Homo sapiens: one gene and its partner. The protein of the gene in region 2 purifies or fractionates together with the protein of the main gene of each other region. This does not show direct contact. Each region holds a gene or a part of one and is shown on either strand. Other genes may lie near its edges.

The links. The genes of interacting proteins can lie anywhere in the genome.
Region 1: the proteins of AKAP10 (region 2) and ARHGEF2 purify together in Homo sapiens (tandem affinity purification; one large-scale study listed by IntAct). This does not show direct contact.

What each region holds. Positions count from the first base shown.
Region 1 is NC_000001.11:155,961,548-155,965,757, reverse strand, and holds part of ARHGEF2 (rho guanine nucleotide exchange factor 2), read left to right. Parts: coding exon 1-127; intron 128-345; coding exon 346-455; intron 456-626; coding exon 627-770; intron 771-2,574; coding exon 2,575-2,825; intron 2,826-3,039; coding exon 3,040-3,165; intron 3,166-3,535; coding exon 3,536-3,653; intron 3,654-3,848; coding exon 3,849-4,097; intron 4,098-4,210. UniProt on the Homo sapiens protein: Activates Rho-GTPases by promoting the exchange of GDP for GTP.
Region 2 is NC_000017.11:19,956,532-19,961,928, forward strand, and holds part of AKAP10 (A-kinase anchor protein 10, mitochondrial isoform 1 precursor), read right to left. Parts: intron 2,041-5,397; coding exon 1,483-2,040; intron 1-1,482. UniProt on the Homo sapiens protein: Differentially targeted protein that binds to type I and II regulatory subunits of protein kinase A and anchors them to the mitochondria or the plasma membrane.

The DNA.
Region 1 (4,210 bases), on a different chromosome or scaffold from region 2:
CCATCCGGGAGCGGCCAAGCTCGGCCATCTACCCCTCCGACAGCTTCCGGCAGTCCCTCCTGGGCTCCCGCCGTGGCCGCTCCTCCTTGTCTTTAGCCAAGAGTGTTTCTACCACCAACATTGCTGGGTGAGCCTCTGTTTGGGGAAAGGGGCAGCCAGAGAGTGTGGCAGTGGAGGCCAAGGGGGTGCTGAGAGGTCCCTTTCCATCCCTGAGTTCAGAACTGTAGACAGACAAATAAGGAGAACTTAGGGGGACCGCCTCTTGGATCCTGGCTTTGGTTCCCTACCTGGGAAGGGATCTTTTGCCCGACTGGGGGTGATGCAGACAGCCTCCACTTTCTTCAGACATTTCAATGATGAGTCTCCCCTGGGGCTGCGCCGGATCCTCTCACAGTCCACAGACTCCCTCAACATGCGGAACCGAACCCTATCCGTGGAATCCCTCATTGACGAAGGTGAGCAGGCCTGGGCCCAGGGGAGCCCTGAGGAACATGAAGAGGGGCTGGGGGATGAGAGGCTGGTGGGAGTAGCCTGGAAGGACAAGGAGGGAAGGGATCTAGAGAAGGGCCAGGGACCCAGGGAAGGGAACTCAAGACCTCTGAGTTGCTTGCCCTGCTAATGTCCAGCAGAGGTAATCTACAGTGAGCTGATGAGTGACTTTGAGATGGATGAGAAGGACTTTGCAGCTGACTCTTGGAGTCTTGCTGTGGACAGCAGCTTCCTGCAGCAGCATAAAAAGGAGGTGATGAAGCAGCAAGATGTCATCTATGGTAAGCCAAGACCACCCTAGTCTTCCTCTTCCTTCACCAGGTCCTGTTTATCTACTTCCTTCTTTATTTTTCTTTTTCTTTTTTTTTTTTTTTTTGAGATGGAGTCTCACTCTCTCAACCAGGCTGAAGTGCAGTGGCATGATCTCGGCTCACTGCAGCCTCCACCTCCCAGGTTCAAGCGATTCTCATTACAGGCGCCTGCCACCATGCTGGCTAAGTTTTGCATTTTTAGTAGAGACGGGGTTTCACCATGTTAGCCAGGCTGGTTTCAAACTCCTGACCTCAGGTGATCTGCCCGCCTCAGCCTCCCAAAGTGCTGGGATTACAGGCGTGAGCCACCGTACCCGGCTGTGTCCTTCTTTCTACCAGCCCCTACCTCTCAAAACCCTTTCCCTCTTGGCCTACAAGACCCTGCCTGGTATCCCACAGGTTGCCCACTAGGTCCCTACCTCTTGATGCTGTTGGTCTCCAACACCCTCTCTTTATCCCTTCTTTATCTCTGTCTTCAGTCTTTACTCTGTGCTTGTTCCACGCTTAACACCGTGCTGGAGACTGTGGGAAGCCTCGACATGTAGAAGACATATGGTTCTTACCCTAAAATAGCTCACAGCTTGAGATGATAAGGTGTAAAGATAAAAAATGGAACTGGGCGTGGTGGCTCATGCCTATAATCTCAGCGATTTGGGAGGCCGAGGTGGGAGGATCACTTGACGCCAGGATTTTGAGACCAACCTAGGCAACAAAGCAAGACCTCTGTCTCTAAAAAAAAAATATATATATATATATATGTATATATATATATATATATATATATATATATTTTTTTTTTTTTTTTTTTTTTTTGAAGCAGAGTCTTGCTCTGTCGCCCATGCTGGAGTGCACTGGCGCTATCTCGGCTCACTGCAACCTCCGCCTCCCAGGTTCAAGCAATTCTCCTGCCTCAGCCTCCCAAGTAGCTGGGATTACAGGCGCCTACAACTACACCCGGCTAATTTTTGCATTTTTAGTAGAGACAGGGTTTCATCATGTTGGCCAAGCTGGTCTCGAACACCTGACCTCAGGTGATGCACCCGCCTCGGCCTCCCAAAGTGCTGGGATTATAGGCGTGAGCCACCGTGCCCAGCCGTCTTTAAAAAATATTTTAAAAAACTAGTCAGGTGTGGTGGCATGTGCCTATAGTCCCAGCTACTTGGGAGGCTGAGACAGGAGGATCGCTTGAGCCCAGAAGTTCGAGGCTGCAGTGAGTTATCATTGTGCCACTACACTCCAGCCTGGGCACCAGAGTAAGACCTCATTTCTGGAAAAAAAAAAATAATAATAAAATTTTTGAAAGATAAAAATGAGGGCCGGGTGTGGTGGCTCATGCCTGTAATCCCAGCACTTTGGGAGGCCGAGGTGGGGAGATCACGAGGTCAGGATTTCGAGACCAGCCTGACCAATATGAAGAAACCCCATCTCTACTAAAAATACAAAAATTAGCCGGGCCTGGTGGTGCGTGCCTGTAATCCCAGCTACTCAGGAGGCTGAGGCAGGACAACTGCTCGAACCTAGGAGGTGGAGGTTGCAGTGAGCTGAGATCGCGCCATTGCACTCCAGCCTGGGCAATACAGTGAGACTCTGTCTCAAAAAAAAAAAAAAAAAAAGATAAAAATGATTAGAAAAGTATCTAAGATCATAATAATGCAGAATATTAACCTGGAATGGACCTTGAAAACCTCACGTGAACTGTGAGGTCCTTATCCTAGGGCCCCACGAGTTTTAGCCAAGCCAGGGTAGAGGCCAAATGTCCCAATGTCCCCCACAGAGCTAATCCAGACAGAGCTGCACCATGTGAGGACACTGAAGATCATGACCCGCCTCTTCCGCACGGGGATGCTGGAAGAGCTACACTTGGAGCCAGGAGTGGTCCAGGGCCTGTTCCCCTGCGTGGACGAGCTCAGTGACATCCATACACGCTTCCTCAGCCAGCTATTAGAACGCCGACGCCAGGCCCTGTGCCCTGGCAGCACCCGGAACTTTGTCATCCATCGCTTGGGTGATCTGCTCATCAGCCAGGTGGGAAAAGGCAGGACCCCTGGGTGACATTCATGGAAGGAGGTGTGACTGGGTTGGGCATTTCTTGGGTCCAAATTCTAGGGGTTGGAGGGGAGCCAGGGAGAGCTGGAGAAACAGGAAGCCAGCCTGTTTGGCAGGAGGCCAGAGGTGTGTCCAGTGGGTAAAGTGTGGCTTTGGGGGAATGCTGACCTAACCTTACTCGACCAACTTCTAGTTCTCAGGTCCTAGTGCGGAGCAGATGTGTAAGACCTACTCGGAGTTCTGCAGCCGCCACAGCAAGGCCTTAAAGCTCTATAAGGAGCTGTACGCCCGAGACAAACGCTTCCAGCAATTCATCCGGGTGAGCGGACCTCTCCAGATCCCATGCTCATGGCCCAAACCCACCCTCCCCAACTCATGGGGGTAGTGCCTGTGAGCTGCACCCACATGGAGGTCAGGCATTCGCCACCCGTGCAGACCATCCATACACAGATCCTGTCAGCAGTAACCCCTCAGAATGCTAGAGCACGTTGTGGTAGTTTCCCAAGTACTTTTTGCTCCTTCAGTTGGTCCTCACAACAAACCTGTGGCGTTGTTATCCCCATTTTCCAGATATGTCACCTAGGCAAGCATGAGGTAAATGGCCACGCCAGGGCCAGCACCAGAGCTCAGGCCCCAGGCCTTTCTGTTGCCCTCCCCTCTGGCCCTGAGCCCTGCCTCCTCCCTTGTAGAAAGTGACCCGCCCCGCCGTGCTCAAGCGGCACGGGGTACAGGAGTGCATCCTGCTGGTGACTCAGCGCATCACCAAGTACCCGTTACTCATCAGCCGCATCCTGCAGCATTCCCACGGTGAGTAGGCAGGCCCAGGAGAGGGCCACTGGGAGACGGCCACCTGGGGTGAGGAAAGGCTCGGTATGACCACAGGAAGGGTGGGGTCGGGTGTGAAACCCTGGGCAGCCTCTAAAGGTGGAATCAAGACACGATGGGAACTGGGGTGTGAGTGAAACTGGTTGAGCCGTTCCCCATGCCAACCCCCGGTGCCAGGGATCGAGGAGGAGCGCCAGGACCTGACCACAGCACTGGGGCTAGTGAAGGAGCTGCTGTCCAATGTGGACGAGGGTATTTATCAGCTGGAGAAAGGGGCCCGTCTGCAGGAGATCTACAACCGCATGGACCCTCGGGCCCAAACCCCAGTGCCTGGCAAGGGCCCCTTTGGCCGAGAGGAACTTCTGAGGCGCAAACTCATCCACGATGGCTGCCTGCTCTGGAAGACAGCGACGGGGCGCTTCAAAGGTCAGACCTGCTCGGCAGACTAGGCAGGAATTCAAAGTCAGATGGAGAGTGGGAGATGCCTGCAGGTCTTAGAATCAACCTCTCTTGGCCGGGTGCAGTGGCTCAACGCCTGT
Region 2 (5,397 bases):
GATCCATAGAAATAAAAAATTCAATAACTTTTTTTCTTTGTTTGAGCTGGGGTCTTGCTGTGTTGCCCAGGTTGGTCTCAAAACTCCTGGGCTCAAGCAATCTTCTCACCTTAAGCTTCCTGAGTAGCTGGGAGTACAAGTGTGTGCCACTTCTCCCAGCTTACAGTAACTTTGCGATGAAAATAACATGCCGTCAGGTGTGGTGATTCATGCCTGTAATCCCAGCACTTTGGGAGGCCGAGGCAGGTGGGTCACTTGAGGTCAGGAGTTCAAGATCAGCCTGACCAACATGGTGAAACCCCGTCTCTACTAAAATATAAAAATTAGCCAGGAGTGGTGGCGGGCGCCTGTAATCCCAGCTCCTCGGGAGCCTGGTTGAGGGAAGGAAGGAGGGAGGGAGGGAGGAAGGAAATAACATGCTGAAAACTTGATTCAGTAGCAGATTAGACCTCATTTTAGTTCACTGAGAATGAGTGAACTAAAAGATCTGAAGAAATCACTTAGCCCTTTAAGACACAAAGAACATTTAAGATGAAAAAGAACATGAAGGCTGTCTAATCAAAATCCCAGGTGATAATTAAGAGTATATAATTTCTAAACTAATAGAGAAGAAAAAAAAACAGGTGCTCTTGTCAAAATGCTTCTAGGTCCACATTTACTGTACAACCTAGAGGAAGTTACCTAACCTTTCTAAGCCCTGGTTTTCTCATGTGTAAATAAGATAATCAGTCCGGGCGCGGTGGCTCATGCCTGTAATCCCAGCACTTTGGGAGGCCGAGGCAGGCGGATCACAAAGTCAGGAGATCGAGACCATCCTGGCGAACATGGTGAAACCCCGTCTCTACTAAAAATACAAAAAAATTAGCCGGGTGTGGTGGCAGGCGCCTGTAGTCCCAGCTATTTGGGAGGCTGAGGCAGGAGAATGGCATGAACCCGGAGGTTGCAGTGAGCCGAGACCGCGCCATTGCACTCCAGCCTGGGCGACAGAGCAAGACTCCATCTCAAAAAAAAAAAGATAATCATGCCTACTACCTGCACAAAGGTCTTGTGACTAATAAATAAAATCCAAATATACACTAAGCACTGAACTTAATAAATGTCACTTATTGGCAATTTTTAAAAATTTTTTAAAAATTTTATCTGCAAAGTGCAGTAAAATATTAATAAAATTAAGACCGAGGGAGGAAATAAGGCTATGTGGATAATGGTTTGATGTCAAAATCAGTGGAGGGGAAAAGTAGGACATTTGACCCTTCATTTACTAATTCTGATAACACACTTCTTAGAAGGTCCAGTCACTCCTGCTCCTTTTCCATACACTGATCTGACTCTACTACACTCTCCAAATTCTCCCAAATTTACAAGTAGTTAGAGGAGAAAAAAAATATTCCAATCATTTTATTCCTCATCTGAAGTTCTGCTTAGTAAATTAAAAAAAGAAAGTGAGACACATATGTACACACAAGAAAATCACATACTCACTTTTCATTAGTTTTCCTGACAATTCTTTTAGTGGAGAAGCGGGACTATTTCTACTGGCTACTGTAAGTGTAGAGGAAGATTCTTGGGTTTCCATGGAAACTTGGTGAGTTCCTGCTCTGGCCATTTCAAGACGGAGAGAATGGGCACTGTCACATTCCTGGGAAAGCAGCAAGTGATTCTGAGTGCTGTTAGTTCTATTATTCAGGTCAATTCCTTCTGAATGAGTCATAAACAACTGTGCTGAGCCAGAATCCTCCAATCTCTTATCAAGAGAATCAGTTAAAAAAGACGCTGTAGTTTCATGCTTTTTAGATGGAGAGACAGGCTCAGCCAGTGAGCTCTGCTTCACTGTGTTTAGACTGTGTGCTCTTATTCGCGACCAAGTTGTTGAATGAAAACTTTCAGCCTCTAACCAAAATTTCACCAAATGCTCCATTCGCCGAAGTTCCATGAATTGAATGAAGTAAGGGAGGACAATAGTGTCGTGCAAGACTTGTTCAAGGGTCTTAGAAAGGCTTGATTTGGTCTCTTGAGTCTGGTAGTCCAGACAAGATCTGCCTAAAAGATAGAAGCAAAAGAATTAGCAGTTCAGCAACAAATAATTTCAGATTGACAGATTAGTCAATCACTTTTAGCAACAACTGGTACCAGAGACCTTGAATAAAGTTTACTTCCTAGCAACTAAAGTAAATAAAAAAACTACAAATACTATGCTTTTGGTTTCTAAACAAAGTACAATCGTCCAAAACTTGCCTAAATTATTAAAAAGTTATTTGTTACTCAATAATTCTCATATCTCTTTTAATGGCAATTCAGACCATGTAAATTCTTTTTTTTTTTTTTTTTTTTTTTTTTGAGACTTTTCACTCTTGTTGCCTAGGCTGGAGAGCAATGGCGCGATCTCGGCTCAATGCAACCAACCTCCACCTCCCGGGTTCAAGCGATTCTCTTGACTCAGCCTCCTAAGTAGCTGGGATTACAGGCACCCGCCACCACGCTGAGCTAGTTTTTGTACTTTTAGTAGAGATTCGGTTTCACCATGTTGGTCAGGATGGTCTCAAACTCCTGACCTTCGGCAATCCACCCACCTCGGCCTCCCAAAGTGCTGGGATTGCAGGCGTGAGCCACTGCGCCCAGCCCAGACTACATAAATTCTTAAGAAAAAAAACTTATGATACTAGTTCCAAAGGGGCCAATAAAAATATTAAAAACTATACTCAACCTCATTAAAAATCCCAGAAAAGCAAATTAACATAAAATGCATTTTTGTCTGTCAAATTAGATTTTTTTCAAAAATTATTAAGCAGTAACAAGGGCACAGGAAAATAGGCAACACTCTCATTCGCTGGTCATGAGGATGTAAACTGGCAAAACCTTTTTGGAGGAGCATTCAGGAACAGATAGCAAAGTCTTAGCAAACTGCATTATTTTCAGTCCAGTAATTCCACTTGTAGGCACTTATCCTGAGGGAAAATTGTGGATATATCTACAAAGATGTTATGAACTCAGCATTATTCATTCATAGTAGGTTAAAGAGTAGCTTTGAGATCGTACCTTGAAAAATGAAACTAAACTTAATAAAAAATCATTTATCTTATATTTAACTAAATTTAAATTATAACCACAAGCTAATTGTTAGGAAAGACAAAAAATTTTTTTAAAAATTGGCTTTCATAGCATGATCATAAAGATGGGCATTCTTATAAAACTGACTGAGGGTTTCATCAATTTGTCAAAAGAGTTCTTCTTAATCCATTGATATTCAAATCATTTTTTTGAAGCACGTCGTGTCTTCATCCTCAGTCTTACTGTCAGTGTCAACTAGTTCATCTTTGTCAACATCACAAACTTGAGGAAATTCTGATCTTCTGTGAGGTTTACAATTTCTTTTAATTAAATTCTATGAGATAATGCTAGATTCACATGAAGTTCTAAGATACAATACTGAAAGGGCCAGGCATGGTCGCTCACGCCTGTAATTCCAGTACTTTAGGAGGCTGGGGCAGGCGGATCACTAGAGCCCAGGAGTTCAAGACCGGCCTGGGGAACATAGTGAAACCCCATCTCTAAAAAAATAATAATACCTAGAGATCCCTTGTACACTTTAGTTTCTCCCATGGTAACATCTTGCAAAGCTATAGTACAATATCACTCTAAGATACTGACAGTGATACAACACTCTAACTTGTTCAGATTTCCCCAGTTTTATCTATACTCATTCTTGTTTTTAGTTCTTTGTAATTTTATCACATTGAGATTTCTGCATCCACTGCCAAGATACAACTTCAACATCACAAAGATCCCTCATGTTGCACTTTTATAACTACACCCACTTACCCCTCTCACCTCCCTGTCTCTAACATCTGGCAAACACTAATCTTTTCATTTCTCTTAATTTCTCTATTTCAAGAATATTATCCAAACGGAATCATACTATATGTAGTCTTTAGGGACTGGTTTTTGTCTGACAGCATAATTCCCTTGATATTCATCCAGGTGGTTAAATGTATCAACAGTTTGTTCCTTTTTATTGCTGAATGGTATTCCATGGTATGAATGAACCAGTTCATTCACCTGCTGAAGAACATCCAGTTTTTCAATATTAAGCTGCTATGAACATTTGTGCACAGGTTTTTATTGGAAGGTAAGTTTTCATTTATCTGGGATAAATACAGAGTGCAACTGCTAGGTCATATGGTAATTGCATGTTTCACGTCATAAGAAACCACCAGCCAGGGATGACGGCTCATGCCTGTAATCCCAGCACTTTGGGAGGCCGAGGCGGGCTGATCACCTGAGGTCAGGAGTTCAAAACCAGCCTGACCAACATGGTGAAACCCCATATCTACTAAATATACAAAAATCAGCCAGGCATTATGGCAGGCACCTGTCATCCCAGCTACTCAGGAGGCTGAGGCAGGAGAATAGCTTGAACCTGGGAGGCGGAGGTTGCAGTGAGCCAAAAATTGGGCCACTGCACTCCAGCCTGTGAGACTCCGTCTACAAATAAATAAACAAACAAACAAACAAACAAACAAACTGCCTAGGCCAGGCACAGTAGCTCACGCCCGTAATCCCAGCACTTTGGGAGGCCTACGCAAGTGGATCGCTTGATTCCAGGAGTTTGAGACCAGCCTGGGAAACATGGCGAAACCCCGTCTCTACAAAAAAAAAAAAAAAAAATACAAAAATTAGCCAGGCGTGGTGGTGCATGCCTATAGTCCCAGCTACTCAGGAGACTGAGGGAGGATCACCTGAACCTGAGGAGGGTGAGGCTGCAGTGAGTTGTAATCACGCCACTGTACTCCAGCCTGCGCAACAGAGTGAGACCCTGTCTCAAAAAGAAAAAAAAAAAGAAAGAAAGAAACTGCCTGTTTTCCAGAGCATCTGCACCATTTTAAATTCTCATCAGCAATTTATGAGTGATCTAGCAAAACTTACAATTTTACTCTCTGAGCTATATGCATTTTGTCTGCTATGTATTATTGCTAAGTGTGCCCCACAAACACATTGACACTCTGGTTTGAATATACACAAAAGTAGAGAGAGATGTCAAAAGCAGGACTGATTTTATTAGAAGTCCATTGGTTCATGGATCTTTTTTTCAACTTATGACAACATGACATGCAATTTTCTAAGTGCAGAAATTTGGGTAAGAAATACTGACAAAATAAAGGTCTCCTGCATATGTTTTTGTTTTGGAAGAACTTATTTTAATATAACGGATTTTACCATGCATACTGTGACTTGCTTTTCTCACATTTAAACATGCCTTAGACATTTTCCCACGTCTTTTTTAGATTTCTAAATGGCTACACTGAACCAGGTGTGGTGGTTCACGTTGGTAATCCCAGCACTTTGGGAGGCCTGTGTGGGAGAATTGCTTGAGGCCAGGAGTTTGAGACCAGCTTAGGC